2 separate regions of the Homo sapiens genome follow, and region 1 is linked to region 2. The links come from fine-mapping of genetic effects on gene expression. A gene starts in region 2. The other region holds a variant in brackets. All regions are shown on one strand. Distances are between the middles of the regions. Region 1 overlaps SH3KBP1 (SH3 domain containing kinase binding protein 1). Region 2 holds the start of SH3KBP1 (SH3 domain containing kinase binding protein 1).

Evidence for each region. PIP is the estimated chance that this variant, and not a neighbour inherited with it, causes the effect. A credible set is the group of variants that fine-mapping cannot tell apart.
Region 1: its variant is the best candidate, but not a certain one, in a credible set for the expression of SH3KBP1 in tibial artery (GTEx, PIP 0.69).

What each region holds. Positions count from the first base shown.
Region 1 is chrX:19,669,030-19,677,029 of GRCh38, forward strand. The region is part of intron 6 of SH3KBP1 (SH3 domain containing kinase binding protein 1); the gene reads right to left. Among named protein-coding and RNA genes, the nearest start is that of MAP3K15, 160 kb to the left of the region's middle. The variant A/C (reference allele first, on the strand shown) is at 3,249.
Region 2 is chrX:19,883,137-19,898,209 of GRCh38, forward strand. It overlaps SH3KBP1 (SH3 domain containing kinase binding protein 1), which reads right to left and starts at 4,464. Exons shown (of 18, transcript NM_031892.3): 1 at 4,171-4,464. The coding sequence starts at 4,174. RefSeq lists silencers at 3,866-4,005, 4,486-4,555, 4,616-4,915 and an enhancer at 7,081-7,130.

The DNA.
Region 1 (8,000 bases), 220 kb before region 2:
TCAGCTCACTGCAGCCTCAACCTCCCGGGCTCAGGCGATCCTCCCACCTCAGCCTCCCGAGTAGCTGGGGACTACAGGTGTGCATGCCACCACACCCAGCTAATTTTTGTATTTTTCGTAGAGTTGGGGTTTTGCCATGTTGCCGAGGCTAGTCTCAAACTCCTGACCTCAAGTGATCCAACTGCCTCAGCCTCCCAAAGTGCTGGGATTACAAGCATTAGCCACTGCACTCAGCTGAGGATGATTTCTATTTATTTCTTTGTATTCTTCAACTTTGAATAATAATAATAATAATAATTATTATTATTATTACAAAGAGCTCTTGTAATGAGAGAAGTAACAGAGCTACCTCCATTTTGAGAAACAAACAAGCAAAGGGTTCAGGGAGCACTTACCAGTGCAACAAGTAGCTCAGACATCACAGGACCAAGGCAAAACCTGTCAGGCCCCCCAGGGGCTACCATTCCTCTCCCATCTCCAGGCCCTAGCTGCTGAGACTTTCCCACGTTTTTCACACCTTACAATCAATCATGCTTTCACTCATTTCCCCAAGGAAGAAGATTCACCATCTTTATTTTGCATATAAATACCTCATTCAGATTTCTACTCATCAGAACTCAGAACAAAGACATCCAGCATAAGATCAGCAAACATAAGCTATCTTTCCCTAGGAAAATCCTCTCAAGCCATTGCCGATGAATATATTTTTATCCTAGCCAACCCCTAACGGCACTCTCCTCATATATCTGCCTCTGTCCTCCTTTCTAGGCAAGCAACAGATGCCATTTAAAAACCTTTCAAGAAGTTCCCCTACTCTTAAAATGATATGTTAAAACAATGTGTTTCCTTTTGGCCACGCTATTTTTTTTTTTTTGTAATTTTGAAAATAGTATAAGTTAAAGCCAACAGAAAAAGACATAAAGGGACATATTTTACAGACCTCATCAATTCTCCCCTTAAAATTTTTTTTTCAATGAGAGACAGGGATATGGAAGACATATGACACACTGTAAGCCTTACTTATCCTGTGGTTTATTTAGGGAATTTTGTGTTTGGAAAATGACAGACTTCTGCTTTTAGGTAGACAAATATGAACAACTCACAGAGAAAAACAAGACCACTTATTTCTAGCAAACTTTTATAAAATCAAAATAATTTAGTGTCTTAATTTTTCTCCATACATGAGTACATACCTATAAATGCCCCGCACTACAAAACTAGCCAAATATCTTTACCCCATCATAAAAAAAGCAGTTCAATAGCACCCAGAAGTCACTACTCACAGCTGCTCCACTCACAAAGAAAACTCCAAATGTCGGTGACCCTCAAGAGTGAAACGCCCCACAGCTGGCTTGCTCTGCATGGACATACCCTTCTCTCTAAGCTAACCTGAAAAGCAAGCTGGATTTGTTTACTGCACAAACATCTGTAATTGCTAAACATCTCTGTGACATGGTGTAACAGTTACCGCTTGTGCAAACTGCCCATCTAAATTTCTCTCTGCAATATGAGCACATGAAAACCCAAGACACAGAGAGATTGGAAACATCTGTAAAAATTAATGGCCAAATTGACCAAAGTGGGAGGGATTAAAACGGCTAAATAGCTCCAGAGTGACATTCAGCTTTAGCAAATAATCCGTATACTTGATAGGTTCCTCCTCAGCTTATCCATAGCTCCCCTCTGTGGGATCCTAGCTGGCACACACATTGTTTCAACCCACTAATGCAAACCCATTACCCAGTCTTGCTACAAAATGTTATATACAGATAAGATACAGGTTAACTGGATTTATTACAACTCTAAAAGCAAAAAAAAAAAAAAAGAAATACCTCTTCTCCCATGATGCAGCCAGCCTCCTCTCTTCAGTTTGAAAAGGTCCCAGAACTCCCCTGGAATCCTCCCACTTCCTTCCAACAGCACGGAGCCTGAGGACCCAGCCTAACCCTGAGTCATACTTGGGACCAAATGAGGAATGGGGAGAACAAAGCTCGCATTTGTTTATGGTTCAGGAAGCCAGGGCCAATTCATGGCTTGGGTGGCTTCGAGAGAAGTCCTCCTCCCTCGCCTATGTTGCTGCTGCAATCTGGGCTCCCTCCTGGGGCCCCCAGGTGTGACCATTCGGACAAGGAACACACTGAGGGAGTGTTTATTTGGCAAGACCTAGTGATCACGTCTGTTTAAAAATGCCAGAGAAGAAATAAAAAGCCCACTATCTTTCAACAGATCACATGGCTAGAGAGTGAGGGATATCTAGAATATAGTCTGTATATGACATATCAATCATGAACATGCCTGTATTTTAAATGCAATTAGTTGCACTACACAAAAATTACTCATAAACACACACACACACACACACACACATACACACACACACACACAGAAGAAGGAAAAACAGCCGTGGCTTTATGGAAATACTCCCCCTAGGAAAAATACAGCAACATTGCTGCCATGTCATCAGGAGCATCCTAACAGGTTGAAATGAAATATTTAAATCACAATTTTGTTCTTTCCCCCAAAAGAGATACCATTTTAATCACCACTTCAATGAATCTAGAGCGCAGTGGTTAAGTGTTCAAAACTCTGGAGCCGGAGTGTTTGAGATCAAAATCCCAGTTGAGCTACTTCCTGGCTTTGTGATCCTGAACAACTTATTCAACCTTTGTTCATCTCAGTTTCCTTATCTATAAAATGGGGATAATGGCACCAACCTACAGGGCTGTCTGGAAAATTAAATAATATATGTAAAGTACTTACAAAAGTGCTTGGCACACAGTAAATATCATATTAGCCACAATTACAAGTTCAGGACAATTTCACAAATCAGGATGCCAAGTAAACAGTATCCTTATCTTACCACATTTCTCATATGCTTAGACTTTGATGACCTGTTTCAGTTAACTATGGTTAATATTTAAATTTTTAATTAAACTAATTTAAAAACCATTTGCTTACTATTTATTAACTGCCTGCACTGTATCTAACTCTGTAAGGGGCTTTAAATAAGATGCTGTCCCAGTCCTCAAGAAATTTACAATCTCCTTGGGTAAATAAGACATAAATCTGTTTACTTATCACACACACACACAAATGTAGGTGATGTCACTAGGTAGTAAATGACAAATATAATACAAGTGCTACAGAATTAGCATTTGGAATTCAGAGAACAGATAAAAAAAATTCCCTTATCAAAACCCAACTAGGACGGAGGAGAATAAACAAATCTCCTGTGTAGAAGGATTCCA[A/C]ATCATTTCTTTAGATACTCCTCCCTCAAGGAGGTAGAATGAAACTCCCCACTCTTTAAGTGGGAGGGGCACAGAGTACCCTTTTTCCAAAGAGTCAAGTATGGAAAGAGGGAAAAAACCAGAACTTTCGAGCGGAGAAACCTGACTAACACCTACGTCAGCCAAGGTGACTAAGGTTAACATCTATAGCGATAAGTATGGAATTAATATGATGTAATGAGAGCACTTCACCTCTGTGGCCTTCCTCCCAAAAACCCACGACTCCAATCTACTCATGAGAATAACTTCAGACAAATGCTTATTTAAGGACATTCTACAAAACTGAAAATTGCCATGGTCATCAAAAATAAAGAAAGTCTGGGAAACTGTTAAAGCCTAACAAGATGAGAAAACTAAATGTGGTATTCTGGATGGGATCCTGCAACAGAAAAAGGACACTGGATAAAAACTGAGGACATCTGAATAAAGCATGGATGTTAGTCAATAATGATAATATGGGCCAGGCATGGTGGCTCACGCCTGTAATCCTAGCACTTTGGGAGGCCAAGGTGTGCGGATTACTTGAGGTCAGGAGTTCAAGACCAGCCTGGCCAACATGGTGAAACCTCGTCTCTACTAAAAATACAAAAATTAGCCAGGCCTGGTGGCAGGTGCCTGTAATCCCAGCTACTCAGGAGGCTGAGGCAGAAGAATTGCTTGAATCGGGTGGGGGTGGGGGGCGGAGGTTGCAGTGAGCCGAGATGGCGCCACTGCACTCCAGCCTGGGCAACAGAGCAAGATTCTGTCTCAAAAAAAAAAAAAAAAAAAAAGATAATATGAAACGTACCACGTTAATGCAAGACGTTAACAAGAGAGGAAGCCGGGTGTGAGGTATGTGGGAACTCTATTATCTTCACAACTTTTCCATAAATCTAAAACTACTCTAAAATTAAAAGTTGATTAAAAAACTAATTAGAAAGATAAACCTGCTGAATGCAAAGGTATATATAAATAAACACATATCTGTGATTTATAGCTATACATGTTTATGCCCATGTGTATATCTATGTAAATCTATTTAACAAGGCCCTCTCAACTTCAAATTTAAAAATTGTCTCTATCTTCTTAGCCTATCTATTAATGAAGATAGTAGAATGCTGACTCCTGGCTTTTTCATTCCCAAAATACACAAAAGAATTTTCTTTGAAAGGAAACTTGGCTCTTTTGTCAGTGTTGCTGCCAACCCAGGCAACGGCGATCCAGCTTAAAGAGTGTGCATGAGGTGGGCCCATCTGCCCCTTTCCAAGAGCTACTAGAAGTTCCTGGTGCCTGGCCAATTAGTCATCGACCATGGAGCCCCGGGGCTGGCAAGTCTCCCAGCTACTTCCTCTCCCATCTCCAGTCCACATTCCTCAGCACCTCCCCAGTTATCTCTCTAAAGTATAAATCTGATCATGCTGCTGCCCAACTGAACTCCTTCACCAACTTGCCCACCCACCCAGAAGAAGGGCAGCTTGTGAGTGGGCTGGCAGAGCCCTGCAGGAAGAGGCACCACCTCCCCTTCAGCTGCCCACTTCCTCCACTACCACCACCACAGCCCCTGCACCCCAGCCCAACCCACCTCTTCCTTCAACATACTCATGCTCACTCCTTGTCCACATGCACACTGCTAGTACCATGAATTCCCAACGTCTTTTAACACCTTGCTCAAATACCACATTCCTTAAAAAGAGACCAAGGATATCCCATCCCTTCCTTCTTGACCTGGAGGAAAGTTAGTAGTTTCTTCCTTTCTATTCTCATTGATGCTTTGGACATGCGTCTGCTAGTCTTTCCCCTTACATTATAATGACTTTTATACATACCCCCTTTCTCTCCAATGTAGGGACAATCCAAAGCATTAAATGAGAAACCTGTATATGACAGCTGATCCAAGGTGTGACTTAGGGTAGGAGGTGTTAACTCCATTCCGATGAACCACACCAGATCTGCTCCACCCCAAATAAATAACCTGTCAGGTTAAAAAAAAACCGCACTTACTATGCAAATACAACATCTAGACATGCCATTTAGCCAATCCCTTTCCAAATGGATTGCCACCCCTTTGTTCATTTACATACAAATCCCAGAGATACCACTGCTAATCCATAAAAGGCATTCAATAAAGCTTCACACTGCTGATCCATAAAAGGCATTCAATAAAGCTTCAGTGAATGAATGAATGAGTGAATTAATGAACAAATGGAAGAGTGAATCTTAGCTAGACCACAAGCAGATCCCAACCAGAATTGGATTAGCACAAAACAGTATCTTCATTCATCCAGTCCACAAATATTTACTGAGGGCCAACTATCATTTGACAACTATTTTCATAAACTGTAAATGGTGACTAACACAGACAAGGTCCCAAATTATGGCACTTACTTTCTAGTGGCTGACATTTAAGACTTGGTGATATGAAACAAACAGCTAACACAGATATAGCAAAATTCAATTGTACTTCTTGCAGTTTGAAATTTGCCATAATAAAAAATTAAAGAGGCCAGGCATGGTGGCTCATGCCTGTAATCCCAGCACTTTGGAAGGCTGAGGGAGGTGGATCACCGGAGGTCAGGAGTTCAAGACCAGCCTGGCCAACATGGTGAAACCCCGTCTCTACTAAAAATACAAAAATCAGCCGGGCGTGGTGGCCCACACCTATAATCCCAGCTACTCGGGAGGCTGAGGCAGAAGAATTGCTTGAACCCGGGAGGCAGAGGTTGCAGTGAGCCAAGATCATGCCACTGCACTCCAGCCTGGGTGACAGAGCAAGACCCTGCCTCAAATAAATAAATAAATAAATAAATAAATAAATAGAAATAACCCTGGAAAATGTACTGTCATTTATAGGTACTCTTTCTACTCTAATAACAATAAGGACAACAATAATAATAACTAACGTTAATCAAGTGATTACTATGTGCCAGGCACTTCTCTAACCATTACATGTTACTTAATCCTCACAACAACCCTCTGGGGTAGATTCTCTTGTTACTCTAATTTTACAGATGAGGAATCAAAAGCACTGAGTGGTTAAGTAACTTGTCCCAGGAAGAGGCAGAGTTGAAGTCTGAACCTGGGCTATCTGTCCTCCATGTTTAATAACCACTATACTTTTTTTTTTTTTTTTCCAGAGTCTCGCTCTGTCGCCCAGGCTGGAGTACAGTGGCGCAATCTCAGCTCATTGCAACCTCCACCTCCCGGGTTCAAGCGATTCTCCTGCCTCAGGCTTCCAAGTAGCTGGGACTACAGGCGCATGCTACCATGCCCAGCTAATTTTTTGAATTTTTAGTAGAGACTGGGTTTCACAGTGTTAGCCAGGATGGTCTCCATTTCCTGAACTCATGATCCACCTGCCTTGGCTGGGATTATAGGCGTGAGCCACCACACCCGGCCAACCACTATACTCTTAACACAATTTGAAAACCTTCTGGGAATATGATTCTTGGTGACAATCTGGCTGCAACTAAATATTTCTTAGAAAATACGCTAGGCTGAGTGTTTTAGAAAGTTCACATCAAACATATATAAAACAGAAAGCAGCACCCAACATGACAAAGAATAATCCTGTAATACTGGTTCACTGTTTCTGTTTCCCTTTCCCTACCAACTCCCCTCCTCCTTCCTTACTTTTTCCAGATCAGGAAACAAAACTGAGACACTCTGAGGAGAGAGAAGCCAAAGTCTGAAAATCCCAAACACTTCATTCAACCCAGGCAACCAGTGGGCATCTTAATACCATCTGCTCATTAAAAACCACAGGTTTTCCAACAACTCAAGAGACACAATCTTATTTTTCAACCAAAACGAGGGACAGCCAATACTCTAGGTCTCAGATAATCACAACAAGGTTTTGACCCTTGTGTTTAATTAGTCAAAGAGTATATATCTCATTAGCTTCTGGAGTTCTCTAGAGCTTATTTCTAGTCTTCAAAGGATTAGGACATAGATCTCTCATTTTTAAGGAACTAAGATCATCACCTTATTGACATGTTTTAATTTTATATGATTATGCAGCTTAATAAATTTTTACTAGAATGGATAAAAAGACTACCTGGGTGGGGGCTGGGTGGGAGGCGGGGATGGTTAATGCGTACATAAAAAATAGAAAGAATGAATAAGACCTACTGTTTGGTAGCACAACAGGATTACTATAGTCAATAATAATTGCACATTTTAAAATAACTTAAAGAGTATAATTTTATTGTTTATAACTCAACGGATAAATGCTTGAGGGGATGGATACCCCATTCTCCATGATGTGCTTATTTCACAGTGCATGCCTGTATCAAAACATCTCATGTGCCACATAAATACACCTATTATGTACCCACAAAAATTAAATACAAAAAAAAAGACTACCTGAGATACGTATGAAAATACTTAAATTCTCTTACTGTAATTTGGCTAATTAAAAACTTGATTAGTCACTCTCATTTATACACAATTTTAATTCTAATTATCTGTCCCAAGTAAAAGCTACAATGTGGATACCATAAAGGCATTAATTTGGGTGACTATAATTCTATAAATGAGATTCAAGATGACAAGAGTTGAAAAAGAGGCTGTTACAAACACAACGCCTTGTAGAAAGTGTAGACAGAATTCAAGAGAGAGATGTCAGAAGTCACTAACGGAAATCAGCTAAGACAGGAAGACCATGGGAAAGAAGCTTCTTGAAAGATTTCTCCGCAGGGAATCCAGTAAACAACCAACCTGGCAAACCATTCAGTT
Region 2 (15,073 bases):
ACTCATGAAAATGCAGATTGCTGGGCCCCATCCCCAGCATTCCTGATTCAGGAGGTCTGCTGGAATGAAGCCAGAGAATCTGTATCTCTAACGGGTTGCAGGGGAGGCTGTGCTACTGGCCTGGGGCCACCCTCTGAGAAGCGCTGCATTAGAGGCTCTCCTTCTCTAACACTAAGTATTTGGGCTATTTTCCTGTTCTGCGTCTTTCCCATTAGCACTGACTTCATGGTTCTCAGCAGCTTGCTCTTTCTCTGTCACTCTCTCTTCCCTTAGTATAGCATTTCAGATGTCCATCGTGCTTAGCATTGAACAACAGTCCAGGCTATACCTGGTTGATATGAAGTAGCCACAGATATACCTAGAAAGCCATTTTCCTCCCCCACTGCCTCCGATTCCCTGCCCCTGCCTGTCACATAGTTAACTCGGAGAAAGAGCAGTTCTTCTGGCTGGGAGCTGGCCAGGCACCCACAGCTGGGCCAGGGTGTCCTGTTGAACAGAAACAATTCCCTAGAAAACCAACATCAGACAAGGCCACTCTGCGACCAGGATGGAATAAGATGAAAACAAGACCACACATTAATCATGTCTGAACACGGACAAAACATGCACCTTGTCCAAACCACACACATGACCAAATATCCCCCAATCCTGGATAATGCAAATGACTGCTGCTGCTTTACCAACCATAGCTGTGGCCTGCCTCCAATGTTCCCTGCTCCTAGAGAACATTTGTTAAAATACCCAATCACAAATTCCCCCTGGTAGCATCCAATCCAAAGTAATGCCCAGCTTCCTTAAACACGCCCTCAAGCCACCTGACACAGGTGCAAGCCCTCTAAGTCATCCTTCCTTGTACCATCTTACTGAGATGCCCCGCGGTTCCCACGGTGCTCGTTTTCAGTCTCTGCCACAAGAACCAGGTGTGGCTGGAGGGCAGTGATGACTCATACTCAACCAGATTTCTGCTCAAACACAATCTCCTCTAAGACACTGTCCTGGGCACTCTCCAGGCTAAGTCAGATTGGCCTTCTCCACTCATCTTTCATGCGCTCTACTATGGCTTTCAGCTACATACTGCCATGAGAATTGCATTCAAGTCAGCCTTCATTAGACTGAGAAGCCCAAAGTGTCATGTCTCTGTTCTGCACCTGTTCTTAGCACAGTGCCTATGCAAAGAAGATCAACAAACATTGGATGGATGGATGGATGGATAGATGAACAAATACTGCTGTATGCAAAATACATTAAAAACAACTACAAACTCAAGAGTTGATGAGAGAATGTCAGTAACGCCAAAAGAACTGAAGTAGTAAGAGAAGAAACCACCAAGGTTTGTGTAACCAGAGCCACAGCAAGCTTTTGCTCGTGCCAAGATGGATAGAAGTGGGTAAAGCTTATGTACAATTAAGGTGGGAGCCTTTTCTTCCATTTCTAACTCAAGACATTTGTACAGACCAACACATTATGTTCATTTTAGCTTTAGTTTAGCATACAGCAGTCTACCGCCAATACAATAAATACATTGCCAAAGGCTATCCAAACTTTGTTGTTACTCTGGAATTAAACAGAAATCATTTGTGGGCTTGCAAACCCTTCACTACTCACAGATTTGGGTCACCATAATATCTGTTTAATTGTAATTATAAGAGGCTTTCTCTGTGTCTGGCACTGTAGGCATGCATCTCCTAGCAAGTTCAGAGGGCACATTCTGATGGGCTTTTATAAGAGGCCATGTTGCAACTAACCAGCTTCACTTCAGGGTTAGGGATTTGGTTCTTTTCTGTTATTTTTCAGAAAACGAAATATAAGATACAGTTTTACTATGTTATCCATCAAGAGAAAACTCATTATCAGGCCAGGTAAGAATATAAGTGTATCAGAATCAGGCACAGTGGTGTGAGCGTGCAGTCCCAGCTACTTGGGAAGATCTGGAGTCCAGGAGTTCAAATCCATCCTGGGCAACACAGCGAGACCCTCCCTCTTAAAAAAGAATAAAATTGCATCAAATTGATAAACTGGATAAATCTGAAAACCAGAGACTTGGGGGAAAGGGTGGGCCTCTGTCTGCATACACACAACCTCAGCCCATTAGATCACTCCATTGGAAGACATACAGAATGAACCGTTAAATAACTGCACTTCATTACAAATATACTGCTGGAGATGCTTTCAAAAGAGCAGGTGATTTTTAGCCACAAACTACTATAAGCACCTTAAATCCCACTATAAACATGAATTAAATTACATTCGTTTTGACATTATCACCTCTAAGTATTAACTCCTGAAATAAATGAAAATCGATGCCCCCTCCCCCTGCAATAATGGTTGCAGTAAAGATTAAGTACAAAAGGACTAAAAACTACAGGAGCACTCTATTTTTCGTAGGAAGTTCTGAAGAATGAAAACAGTTCAAATCTGAAAAATAGGTCTGATTCTTCTTAAATGAGACTCAGTCCCCTTCTCATTGAGATACAGAAAGCACAGTCTGGCCATGGGAGAAGACATTTGGATTAACTTCTTTTTGTGCATAACCCTCTCGGTGACCCACCCAAAATGAAAGGTGATCAAAACAGAATTTTTGGTTACCTCGGGAGAAATTAACCCATTACTAAAGTGGCCTGTAAGGTTTAAAGTATATACTTCTGCCAATGAACTAAATCATCTTATGGGCCAAAGCAAAACAAGAGTGAGCTAAGTGTTCTGTCCCCAGCAGAGGAGGAGGATTTCATGCCCCTCATTCATTCATTCAACAAATATTTAGGTCCTGCTCTGTGCCACACACCAAAAGTGCTGAGCAAACTATGCAACACTGTGCTGTCCCTATGGTCACAGAGCTTACAGTAGAGGAGATAACTGTTACGCACAAATATGTAATACTGCTACGAAAAAAAAAGGTGTTGTATGAGAAAATGGAACAGGAACCAATTTAGACTACAGGTGGGAGAGAAGGGCACTGTGAAAAAAGTGACATTTAAGCCAAGGGGACAACAGATCACCACTACTTAGAAAAGGAAAACCTTTTTTGGCAAATGACCACAAATGGGATTTTAACTTTGCCTGTCAACAACGGACTGGGTTAAACCTCCTCTTTTCCAATCCTTCAGGCTTTCTGAACATCCTGACTAGTGTACTGGAATCCTATTACCTGAACACAGAAAGGTCTCACTTTATTATGATTTATTATTATCTGCAGCCTTCCTATGCCTGGCCTAGGAACATCCAAAAATAATCTGCCAGAGGCTGAAAAACAGAAGCTGGCTGTCAGCAAGAACATTACCTGGGTAGACCAAACATTTAATAGCCCAAGTAATCATAAGTGCCTTGCCAATAAAGTGGCAGCTTCTCTGGGCAGCAAGGTGGTTCCAATGCTCCGGGGTCTAAATCAAATGGGACCCAGGGGGTTCAAAGGTTAGTTGGCTACTTCGAACTGATGTTTACTCAGTAAATCAAAGACCGGATCACCATTTCCAGGTCCCAGACCCTGAAGACTTAAAGGACAGTATGGGAAGTGGCCTTTTAGCATCACGGAGCAGAGAGCTCGCCAGGCTGGAGGAAGGCAGCAGCGAAAGGGTCGGGGCCGGGAGGAAGGGGGGCGCAAGGAGAGGAGCGTCAGGTGCTCTGGACCCCGGGACTGCGAGCCAGACCAGGAACTGGGGCGTTTCCCGCCCCACCCCCCAACCCCTGTCAACCCCCAGCAAAGGCAACCCAGCCCCCTCCAAGACCCCGAGGTTCCAGCTTCCCCCGAGACAGGACCAGGAAGACACCAGCAGCCCCGCGCAGGGCCGGAGCCCACCAGGTCCGGGTGCCCGTGTCCGCAGCGCAGAGGAGGGCGCGCTCGGGTGCAAAAATGGCCAAGACAAAACTCTCCCCGCCCACCCGAAAAACCAACCACACCCCCTGCATCCCTCAGCCCGAGCCGCCCGGGGCCAGCCCCCGTGATCGTCTGCTCAGGCCCCCGCGGGTTCCCGTCGGCGCCGCGCGCGGGCTCGGCGGGCACACGGGCGCAAGTGGGAGTGAATGGGGGTGCGCGAGGCAGGCGAGGGCGCCCACCGCGGTGTCCCCCGTCCGGACCCTGCCCCCGGGGCGCCCTCCCGGGCTCCGCGGTTCTGGGACTGGCGCGCCGCCCTCAAGGCTGAAGTGGACGCCCGGACGCGGGCGGCCCCCACTCACCCATTGGCGTCGAGCCGGGCCGGGCCGCCGAGGCAGCGTGAAAGTTGGCGGAGGCGGGCGTGGGGGTTGGGGCGCCGGGATCGGGGCGCTGGGATCCAGGCGCGAGGGTCCGGACGCGGCGGCGGCTGGGCCGGCTTCTTCCTCAGTGGCGGCGGCGGCGGCTCAGCGCCGCCCGCTGCTGCCTCTGCTGCTGCTGCCGCTGCTGCCCCGGGGCGACTCCTGCTGCTGCTGTTGCATCGCGGCCCAATGCGCCCGGCTGCGCCGGGTTTCCTGCTCCCCGCGAGTGGAAATTGCGAAAAAAAAAAAAAAAAAAAAAAAAAAAAAAAAAAAAAAAAAAAAAAAAACAGCGCCGCCCAGCCCAGCGCCCGGCAGCCGCGGCCGCGCCGCCCGCTCTCCCCTCCTCCTCAGCGCTGCCGCGAGGCTCCTGCAGCTCCGCCTGCCGGGGACGCGCGGCCGCCGGGCGGGGGCGGGGCCGGAGAGGGGCGGGGCCGGGGCCGGGGCCGCGTCGGGGCAGGCGCCGGGGGCGTCCCTGCGGCTGAGGGGCTTGGGCGCCCTCCTCACCGCCCGCGCCAGAGGCACCCCTCTCCGCGCGGCTGCCACCCACCCGCAGCGGCTGGGCTGACGCCCCGGGAAGTGCCGCGAGACTCCTCGAGACCGGAGGAGAGGGGCTTCTTGGGGGAGGGGCGTGGGAGTGCAGGGGCACGTGGAGAAGGAGGAGAAGGGGGCTGAGCGGGAGGGGGCGACAAGAGGTGGAGGACGGGCTGGGGATGGAGACCAGGGCAGGCCCGGGGCCAAACGCCTGACCAGGGTGATGGCAGGTGGCCCTGGGGCATCGAGGCAATCTGGAATGAGTTTTCCCGGGGGGCTGTTGGAGGGGAAGGAAAAGGGTCCCTTGGAAGGGAGAGAAACGCGGCGTCCCTTCGGTGGGGCGTGGGAACGCAGGCAGGCCAGGTGCGAGTTCCGCACAGAGGAGGCGGTGGCACTGACGTGGGGAAAAACGGGCGAAGGACGCAGCGGGGCCGAGGGGACGCATCGCCTCGCTGGGACCCGCCTAAGCCCCGCCCCAGTGCCTGGGCCAGGTGCGGTTCGGGTGTTCAGGAATGTTCCCGAGCTCTGACGTTCCCAGGAATCCGCTGAGATGAGGGCTGGCTCCCTCCCTAGCAGGCATTATTGTGCCTTACTGACTCCCAGACCTGGACGGCCGACCCTTGAGTGGGCGCTAAAATGTTAACAGGGAATCCGTGGGCATTCGTGGGCAATTCAGAAGCTCCGTTTTGGGTCCATTCACCACCACACCTTTCGCCATAGATACTCTGCCTGCCACCACATTCCTCTACCGGCCCGTTATTTCCTTTTCCCTTTCCACCATCTGGTGGTAGGAAGCGATAGTGAACTACATGGGAGACATTTAGGCAAAGAGCACGTAAGACAATAGAGAAATTACATCAGTGGCCCCTGGAAATGGAGGAGGCTGAGGGCTAGTGGACTCAAAAGGGACAAATGAAAGCCGACCCCCTACCCAAGAGAGGGGCTGTCTCCATACCTCACCTGTGTTGGCGGGGCAACTCTTGTAAATTGGTTACCGTCCTGGGATTTCTGTAGAAAATTGTTCTTATAACTGTTTCATGAGTTTTTCAAAAAACCTCAAAGTCAGGGTCTTACAAACAAGAGATCAGTAGCATCATCTTTCTAAATACCGTTCATGTGTGTCAAACCGATCGAAATAGGAGACTAATCAAGGGACAAGAGGCCCATCCACACAGAGGCTGCAATTGAAGTCCTAGTGTCATCAATATCAGACTCCTAAAAAAGGGATCAGAGAACACGGAGATTAAGAATGTGAAGGCCGGGCGCGGTGGCTCACGCCTGTAATCCCAGCACTTTGGGAGGCCGAGGCGGGCGGATCACGAGGTCAGGAGATCGAGACCATCCTGGCTAACATGGTGAAACCCGGTCTCTACTAAAAAATACAAAAAATTAGCTGGGTGTTGTGACGGGCGCCTGTAGTCCCAGCTACTCCGGAGGCTGAGGCAAGAGAATGGTGTGAACCCGGGAGGTGGAGCTTGCAGTGAGCCAAGATCGTGCCACTGCACTCCAGACTGGGCGACAGAGCGAGACTCCGTCTCAGAAAAAAAGAAAAGAAAAGAATGTGAAGTGGGCCAGGCACGGTGGCTCACGCCTGTAAACCCAGCACCTTGAGAGGCCGAGGTGGGCGGATCACCTGAGGTCAGGAGTTCAAGACCAGGCTGACCAACATGGCGAGCCCCTCTCTCTACTAAAAATACAAAAATTAGCCAGGCGTGGTGGTGCATGCCTTAGTCCTAACTCCGTGGGAGGCTGAGGCACAAGAATTGTTTGAACCTGGGAGGTGGAGGTTGCAGTGAGCCTAGATGGCGCCACTATACTCCAGCCTGGACGACAGAGCGAAAAACTCCGTCTCAAAAAAAAAAAAAAAAAAAAAGAATGTGAAATGTTGAAGGCAGGGATGATGAATACTCAAATATTCCTCCTCCAGGCACCCTGGTGCCTCACTCATTACATGTCTTGTTATATCATGTTCTAATCAGGGCAATCAAGCCTTCTGATACCATCTTAGAGTTGACAAACACTGAAACTCACAGAGCCTGGATAAACCCTCTGCTACTGGGACATTTTTTTTCCCCCAACCCCAGAAGAACTGGTATGGGGGTCTGCTCAATTCCAGAGGTGGTTCTCTTTGGTAAGGCCGTATCAGTGGGTCATCCTAACCCTCTCTCAAAGAGCCTCAGACCCCTGAAAGTGATGGGGTACATTTCAACATGGCAACAGTTGTGCTGGCCTTGCAGTGGACTGTTATCTGGAGTGCTGAAGATTCTTGGCTGGTTGCCCAGTGCATTCTCACAATGATGAGTCAAAAGTCTTTGAACATTGTTGATGATACCTTCCCATAGCTAAACTTACCCAGGCATCACAGAGGCCACTACACCTAAACCAGCAGATGGGGTGCGGGAACCCTGTCGGCTCAAAGAAAAAGAAAAAATCAGCAGTTTGTCTTATGTCCTGCTTGGTCTCTCTGTCCTATGTGGAGAAGACAGTCTTCTCATGGAATTTTATTTCCAACTTCACACAGGTGAACACAGATCACTTGAAATTTGGGGGGTTTGTTTCGTTTTGTTGTCTTTTTTTTTTTTTTTTCTGAGACAGGGTCTCACGGTCACTCAGGCTGGAGGGTAGTGGCGTGATCATGGCTCACTGCAGCCTCAACCTCCTGGGCTCAAGTGATCCTCCCACCTCAGCCTCCCAAATAGCTGGGACTACAGGCACGTGCCATCTCACCCGGCTAATTTTTGTAGTTTTTGTAGAGATGAGGTCTCACTATGTTGCCCACGCTGGTCTTAAACTCCTGGGCTCAAATGATCCTCCCCCGCCTCGGTGTCCCAAAGTGTTGGGATTACAGGCTGAGCCACTGCGCCCGACTTGCTTGAAGTTTTGAGTCTTGTTTATTCTCTGGTCTATTTCAAGGCATATCTTTTCCTTCTTGGACAGGAATGCGGTGTCGCTCCTCCTTGATCTGCTTCCTGCGTGGTCAAATTTGCGTTACCACAAAAGAAAGACTGATGGCAAGACAATATTTTTGAAAATCCCTGAGCTATGTCCTAATTTTATTTTTTATTTTTTTGTTTTTGAGATGGACTTTCACTCTTGTTGCCCAGGCTGGAGTGCAATGGTGGGATCTTGGCTCACTGCAACCTCCACCTCCCGGGTTTAAGCGATTCTCCTGCCTCAGACTCCCGCGTATCTGGGATTACAGGCATGCGCTACCACGCCCAGCTAATTTTGTATTTTTAGTAGAGATGGGGTTTCACCTTGTTGGCCAGGCTGGTCTTGAACTCCTGACCTCAGGTGATCCACCCGCCTTGGCCTCCCAAAGTGCTGGGATTACAGACGTGAGCCATCGCACCGGGACATGTGCCCTAATTTTAATGCCTTAACTAAACAAAGTTGTGGTGATTCTATCCAAAACACTATAGTTTATTTTTCATTTTAAGTTTCTCTGACTTATGAAAATGAACCTTCCATTTTTTCACTTATTGTTTAGTTCTTCTGAATTGTTCCTATTGTCCTTTCATTTTTCCTTGGAGAAACTTTTGCTGACCAGCACAAGGGAAGTTAATATCAAGATTCAGATCCAGCTGCTGACATGAATAGATGCATAATTTCTCATCCTGCCTCCCTCTTACAAGAGTATCTTTTAACAAAATGGTTATTGCAATATTTCAAATGATGTAAATTCATCTCATGAATATTTCTAGAGAAATAGGATTTTATTTAATACATCTTTGTCCCACTGAACTCCCATTTCCACCAGAGGAGATTATGCAGTTTGGAAATAGAAAGTATCGGAGCTGTTACACTTAAAATGATATCGTATGACTTAAAAGGCACCGCTATGTTGCTCAGTAGTAGTAACATATTTTTGGATAGAAACTGAAGGTGTGGCCGGCCATGGTGGCTCATGCCTGTAATCTCAGCACTTTGGGAGGCCGACGTGGGTAGATCACTTGAACCCAGGAGTTTCAGACCAGCCTGGACAACATAGTGAGATCCTGTCTCTACAAAAAATACAAAAATTAGTCGGATGAGGTGGCGCACACCTGTAGTCCCAGCTACTCAGAAGGTTGAAATGGGAGGATCACTTGAGCCTGGGAGGTTGAGGCTGCAGTGAGCCGTGACTGCACCACTGCATTCCAGCCTGGGTGACAGAGCAAGACCCTGTCTCAAAAAAAAAGAAAAAATTGAAGGTGGGTGAGCTTCTGTCTTTCATACTTGCTATCTCTGAGTACTCGGACTTAACATCTGTAATTTGCCTTTAATGAACAATACTTTGATAACCTTTAATATTGTCTTTACATTAATATAAATTACGTGCTGAGTGCTGTACAAAAGACACTCATTGTATAGTGCTTCTGATGAACTTTATGGAGAAATGTAAAAATCTCACAGTGCCAGAAAGTAAAGATGTACTCAACAAAGGTGACAGGGCACAGCAGAAGGGCACAGGAGCCAACCCCAAAGGGCTCCCAAAGGCCAAAGCTGGAGCAATTCAAGCAACAAAATAATTAATGATTGTATTGGAAGAAAATTAATATCTTTGAGTCTATAGAAATACAACTAAATAACTGACTAGGGGAAAATATCAAGGAGAAGGGACAAGTCTTCCTTACAGAGGAATTCCAATTAAAGTGTAGGAGAAATGAGAGAAAGGGAAAAGCATCATTAGAACATCACAGTAACTGCTAATATAGGCATGATCCAACTACCGTTCACAAATGAGTGGGTGAAACTTTAAGGAGAAACAGAATATTTGCATAGCCTCAAAGTATTTTCCCTGAAATAAATATGTCTTCATATTTAAAATGGGGGAAATAGTAACTTTACTTGGAGAACTCTGGCAAACAGCACTTTTTTTTTTCTTTCTTTCTCTTTTATTATACTTTAAGTTGTGGGATACATGTGCAAAATGTGCAGGTTTGTTACATAGGTATACACGTGCCATGGTGGTTTGCTGCACCCATCAACCCGTCATCTATATTAGGTATTTCTCCTAAGGCTATCCCTCCCCTAGCGCCCCACTACCCAAGAGGCCCTGGTGTGTGATGTTCCCCTCCCTGTGTCCATGTGTTCTCATTGTTCAGCTCCCACTTGTGAGTGAGAACATGCAATGTTTGGTTTTCTGTTCCTATGTTAGTTTGCTGAGAATGATGGTTTCCAGCTTCATCCATGTCCCTGCAAAGACATGAACTCATCCTTTTTATGGCTGCATAGTATTCCATGGTGTATATGTGCCACATTTTCTTTATTCTATCATTGATGGGCATTTGGGTTGGTTCCAAGTCTCTGCTATTGTGAATAGTGCTTCTTTTGAGGAGTGTCTGTTCACTTTAAGCAAGCAGTCATGGCTCTGTGCTGATGGCTTTTTTTTTTTCTTTTTTTAGACAGGGTCTGACTCTGTCGCCCAAGCTGGAGTGAAATGATGTGATCTCCGCTCACTGTAACCTCTGCCTCCTGAGCTCAAGCTCAAGAGATTCATGTACCTCAGGTGTGCACCACCACACCCAGCTGATTTTTGTATTTTTAATAGAGATGGGGTTTTGCCATGTTGACCAGGCTGGTCTCGAACCCCTAGCTGAAGTGATCCACTTGCCTCAGCCTCCCAAAGTGCTGGGATTACAGGTGTGAGCCTGATGGTTTTGAGGCAGGCTTTTCCATTCCTCCTTTGCTTCATGCACACCAGGTTAAAGGTAACTGATGTCTAGATCAAAAGCCACAGAAATATTAATGACAAATGTCTTGCTCTATTATGTTTACCTGGCTTGATAGCCTCTCTTAGAATGACCCACTCCCTTCCCTCTTTTTCCTTTTCAGTAAATCTTTTTCAGCAAATCTAACAGGACTGGGTTCACCTGCTCTATAAAGATGAACAAACGAATCAAATCAGAGAAGTAGATCACTTATGAAACAGCTAAACCATGACCTTCTTTACAAGGTTTGTGGGAACGCCTCGCTTTGTAAACAAAGGAAAACACAAAGGAAGCAACTAGAAGGTGAGACGTGCATGTCCACAATGCTACAAAAATAGGATGTCCTCGTTTAAAAATCCAAAGAATGCCTGAGTAATCAACTCCCAAGCTGACTGGTCACACAAGCTTGTATCCAAAGTGCGCAAAAAGAGCCCTGGTGCACAGATGAACTTGCCAAGAACATTTTTCCATCCTTTTCCACAGCACTGCTTTGTCTAAGAAAATAGTAAATTGGGAGAATGGTCCCAGGAGATTAACAAAAAACATGGTTTCTACTGTTTTCTACCCATCCTGCTGGTTTCCTCCCCCACCAAAATCACAAGGGGTCATGTGTAAGGAACTACATTTTCACAATTAAAAGGCAAATCAAATGATAATCAAAAAAGTTCCCAAAGCACCAGACATTAAGATCATATGTGTGATATATATATTGTAATAAATGTTAACATTAAGCCAGGCATGGTGGCTCACGCCTGGAATCTCAGCACTTTGGGAGGCCTACCCAGGCAGATCACTTGAGGCCAGGAGTTCAAGACCAGCCTGGCCAACATGGTGAAACCCCGTCTTTACTAAAAATATGAAAATTAGCCGGATGTGGTGGTGCACGCACGTTAATTCCAGCTGCTGGGGAGGCTGAGGCAGAAGACTCGTTTGAACCCGGGAGGTACAGGTTGCAGTGAGCCGAGATTGTGCCACTGCACTCCAACCTGGGCAACAGAGCAAGACTCCGTCTAAATAAATAAATGTTAACATTAAATAGAACAATGGCATTTAACATAGGAATAAACTGTATCAACAGGCCAATTTTTAAAAATGGAAACTGATAAATTACTATGGGAGGCTTTTGATCTCATCGGTAATGAAAATTTAAAAGTAGGAATTGACTTGCAAACATAGTTTCTCTTTTTGTCCCAGAACCTTCGGGAGAAGCTAAGCTCAGGGGCTCCTTCACAGGCTGGGTTCCTTTGGAGCTCAGCCTCCAGGCTGCACAGACATTGGCCCGTGTTCCTGACAGAGGGAAGAACAAGTGAGGATGTGCAGAGTCTGCAGAACAGATGGCATTTTCAAGGGGTCTCCTGTGGAAGGGGCAGGAGTGTAGTGAAATGTCTGATTCTAAATGGTTTCTATGTCAGGGCCAGATCAAACAAGACCCTGCAGGCAATGGGTAGGAGCACAGGTTTCTTTTTTCTTTTCTTTTCTTTTCTTTTTTTTTTTTTTTTTGAGACAGAGTCTCACTCTGTTGTCCAGGCTGGAGTGAAGTGGCACAATCTCGGTTCACTGCAACCTCTGCCTCCTGGGTTGAAGCAATTCTCCTGCCTCAACCTCCCGAGTAGCTGGGATTACAGGTGTGCACCACCACACCTGGCTAATTTTCGTATTTTTAGTAGAGATGGGGTTTCACCATGTTGGCCAAGTTGGTCTCAAACTCCTGGCCTCAAGTGATCCACACACCTCGGCCTCACAAATGCTGGGATTACCAGTATGAGCCGCCGTGCCTGGCCTGGAGCACAGATTTCTAAGCAGGCTGTTTTTAGGGAGGTAACTGGTGAGCTCTGTGGAGAAAGGACTGGAGGAAGAGCTTGCAGGTGGGAGGCCAGCAACAGGCCAGAGGTGGTAAAGGCAAGAAATATGATGGCAATGATACTAACAAAGAGGAGAGGTTACATTCTAGAGCCATTTTTGAAATACATTTGACAGGCTCTGATGAGGCAGTGGATTTGACGAGAGGATAGGGAGCAAAGATGGAGGATTCAATAGAGATATTTTGTTAGTTGGCTTGGAAGTTGGATAGATAATGGAGTTTCAACTAAGTGGAGAAATCCACTAAGTGGAGAAGGAAGTTTTTGTTGGGGTAGGGATGTGGAGGAGATAATGAATTCAAATTTGAATGTTATTAAGAGCGAATACAGCCAGGCTCGGTAGCTCATGCCTGTAATCTCAACACTTTGGGAGGGCAAGGTGGGTGGATCGCTTGAGTCCAGGAATTCAAGACCAGCCTGGGCAACACAGCGAAACCCTGTCTCTACAAAAACAAAAACAAAAAAATGCAAAAATTAGCCAGGCATGCTGGCGTGTGCCTGTAGTCCCAGCTACATGGGAGGCTGAGGTGGGAGGATCACTTGAGCCTGGGAGTTTGAGGCTGCAGTGAGCCAAGATTGCACCACTGCACTCCAGCCTGGGTGACCGAGCAAGACTTTGTCTCAAAAAAAAAAAAAAAAATGAATACAAAAGGGAATGAAGTACTGATTTATGCCACAACATGGTTGACCCTTGAAAATATGATGCTAAGTGACAGAAGCCAGTTGTCGAAAGCCACCTATTATATGGTTCCATGTATATGAGATTTCTGGAACAGGCAAATCCATAGAGACAGAAAGTAGGCTAGTGGTTGTCAGGGGCTGGGGGAATTGAGGAGTGACAGCTAATGGGTACAGGGTTTCATTTTGCGGTGACAAAACGTTCTAAAATTGATTGTGTTGATGGTTCCACAACTCTGTGAATATACTAAAAACTGTTGAATTATACATTTTAAAATGGGTGAATTGCCAGGCACAGTGGCTCACACCTATAATCCTAGCACTTTGGGAGGCCGAGACGGGTGGATTGCCTGAGGTCAGGAGTTTGAGACCAGTCTGGCCAACATGGTGAAACCCTGTCTCTACCAAAAATACAAAAATTAGCTGGGCATGGTGGTGTGCGCCTGTAGTCCCAGCTACTCGGGAGGCTGAGGCAGAAGAATCACTTGAACCCAGGAGGCAGAGGTTGCAGCAAGCCGAGATTGCACCACTGCACTCCAGCCAGGCAAAAGAGCGAGACTCCGTCTCAAAAAAAAAAAAAAAAAAAGTTAATTATGTGATATGCAAATTATATCTCAATAAAAGCTGTTAAAGATTTTAAAAGAGTGATCATGGTTACAGCATTTCAGTATGGGAAGATGCAAATGTTCTGGAGATGGATGGTTGTGATGGTCGCACAACAATGTGAATGTATTTAATGCCACTGAACTGTACATTAATAAATGGTTAAAATGGCAAATTTTGTTATGTATATTTTAGTACCAAAAGAGAATGAATACATATGTGATTGGTGGGTTATATGGGGCTGGGTGGGGACGATATTCCCTGTGTTTTAACTCCTCCAATAATACCCCCACACTGCTTCCCAAACAGGAAATCAGAATTACAATAACCACCACCCCATCACCTCGGGGTTCAGAGAAACCAAGACCAGTGGCCTGAGCTGACGGTGAAACGCCACAGCCATCCCCTAGATTGTGAAGGCCCCAAAGCAGACAGCCAACCTCAGATGCATCCTCAAGCCCGAGGCTATGGGACTTAATTGAAAAGTCTCTGAACCAGGCGGTCACTTAATAAGAGATGGCACAACCCTTTTCTAGCACGACTTCTTATTAAATAGAGTCAGTCAAATCAAGTTCCTCTTCTCAAAAATAATTACAGACCAGCCAGAGGCAAAAGTGGGAAGTAAGTCAAGTTCATCTTCTTTGTTTTGCTTGCCAGCCCTGGGTTAAGGATTCTATTCCCCAGCTGAAGTTTTCTTTTCTGGACCACAGAAGCTCTCAAAGTGTGGTCCCCAGCCCAGCAGCAGCAGCATGTGGGAACCTGTTAGAGATGCACGCTGGGGACCCCGCCCCAGGCCTTCCGGGTCAGGAACTCTGGGGCTGGGACCCAGTAACCTGTGTTTTGATCAGCAGCTCAAGTGTGAGAATCCCCGCTGTACCTCAACTCCTCAGAGCCAAGGTGAACGCTCTGTCATCTGATGAACTGCTTGGTCCTTGGCAATGAAAACGGGCTCAAGGGAGCTACCAGTGAGGCATAGCCCTGAACTGGTAAAACTGACTTGATGTTTTGCGATATATATTCATATCATTATCATTAGAAAAGTAATCTCTGCTCAGTATTTTAAAAAATAAAACAGGCCAGGCACAGTGGCTCATGCCTGCAATCCAAGCACTTTGGGAGACTGAGGCAGGAGGATTGCTTAAGCCTAGGAGTTTAAGACCAGCCAGGACAACATAGTGAGATCCCATCTCTACAAAAATAAAATAATAAAAAATCAGCCAAGCATGGTGGCACGCACCTGCAGTCCCAGCTACTCGGGAGGCTGAGGTGGGAGGACTGCTTGCGCCTAGGAGGTCGAGGCTGCAGTGAACCATGATCACATCACTGTCCTCCAGCTTGAGTGACAGAACAAGACCCTGTCCCAAAAATAAACTAAACTAAAATAAAATATTAAGGATACAGTGTATAAGGTGAAAATCTTCCATCATCTCACAATTACCAATTACTGCAGAGATAATTGATAATCACTGTTAACTCTTGAAG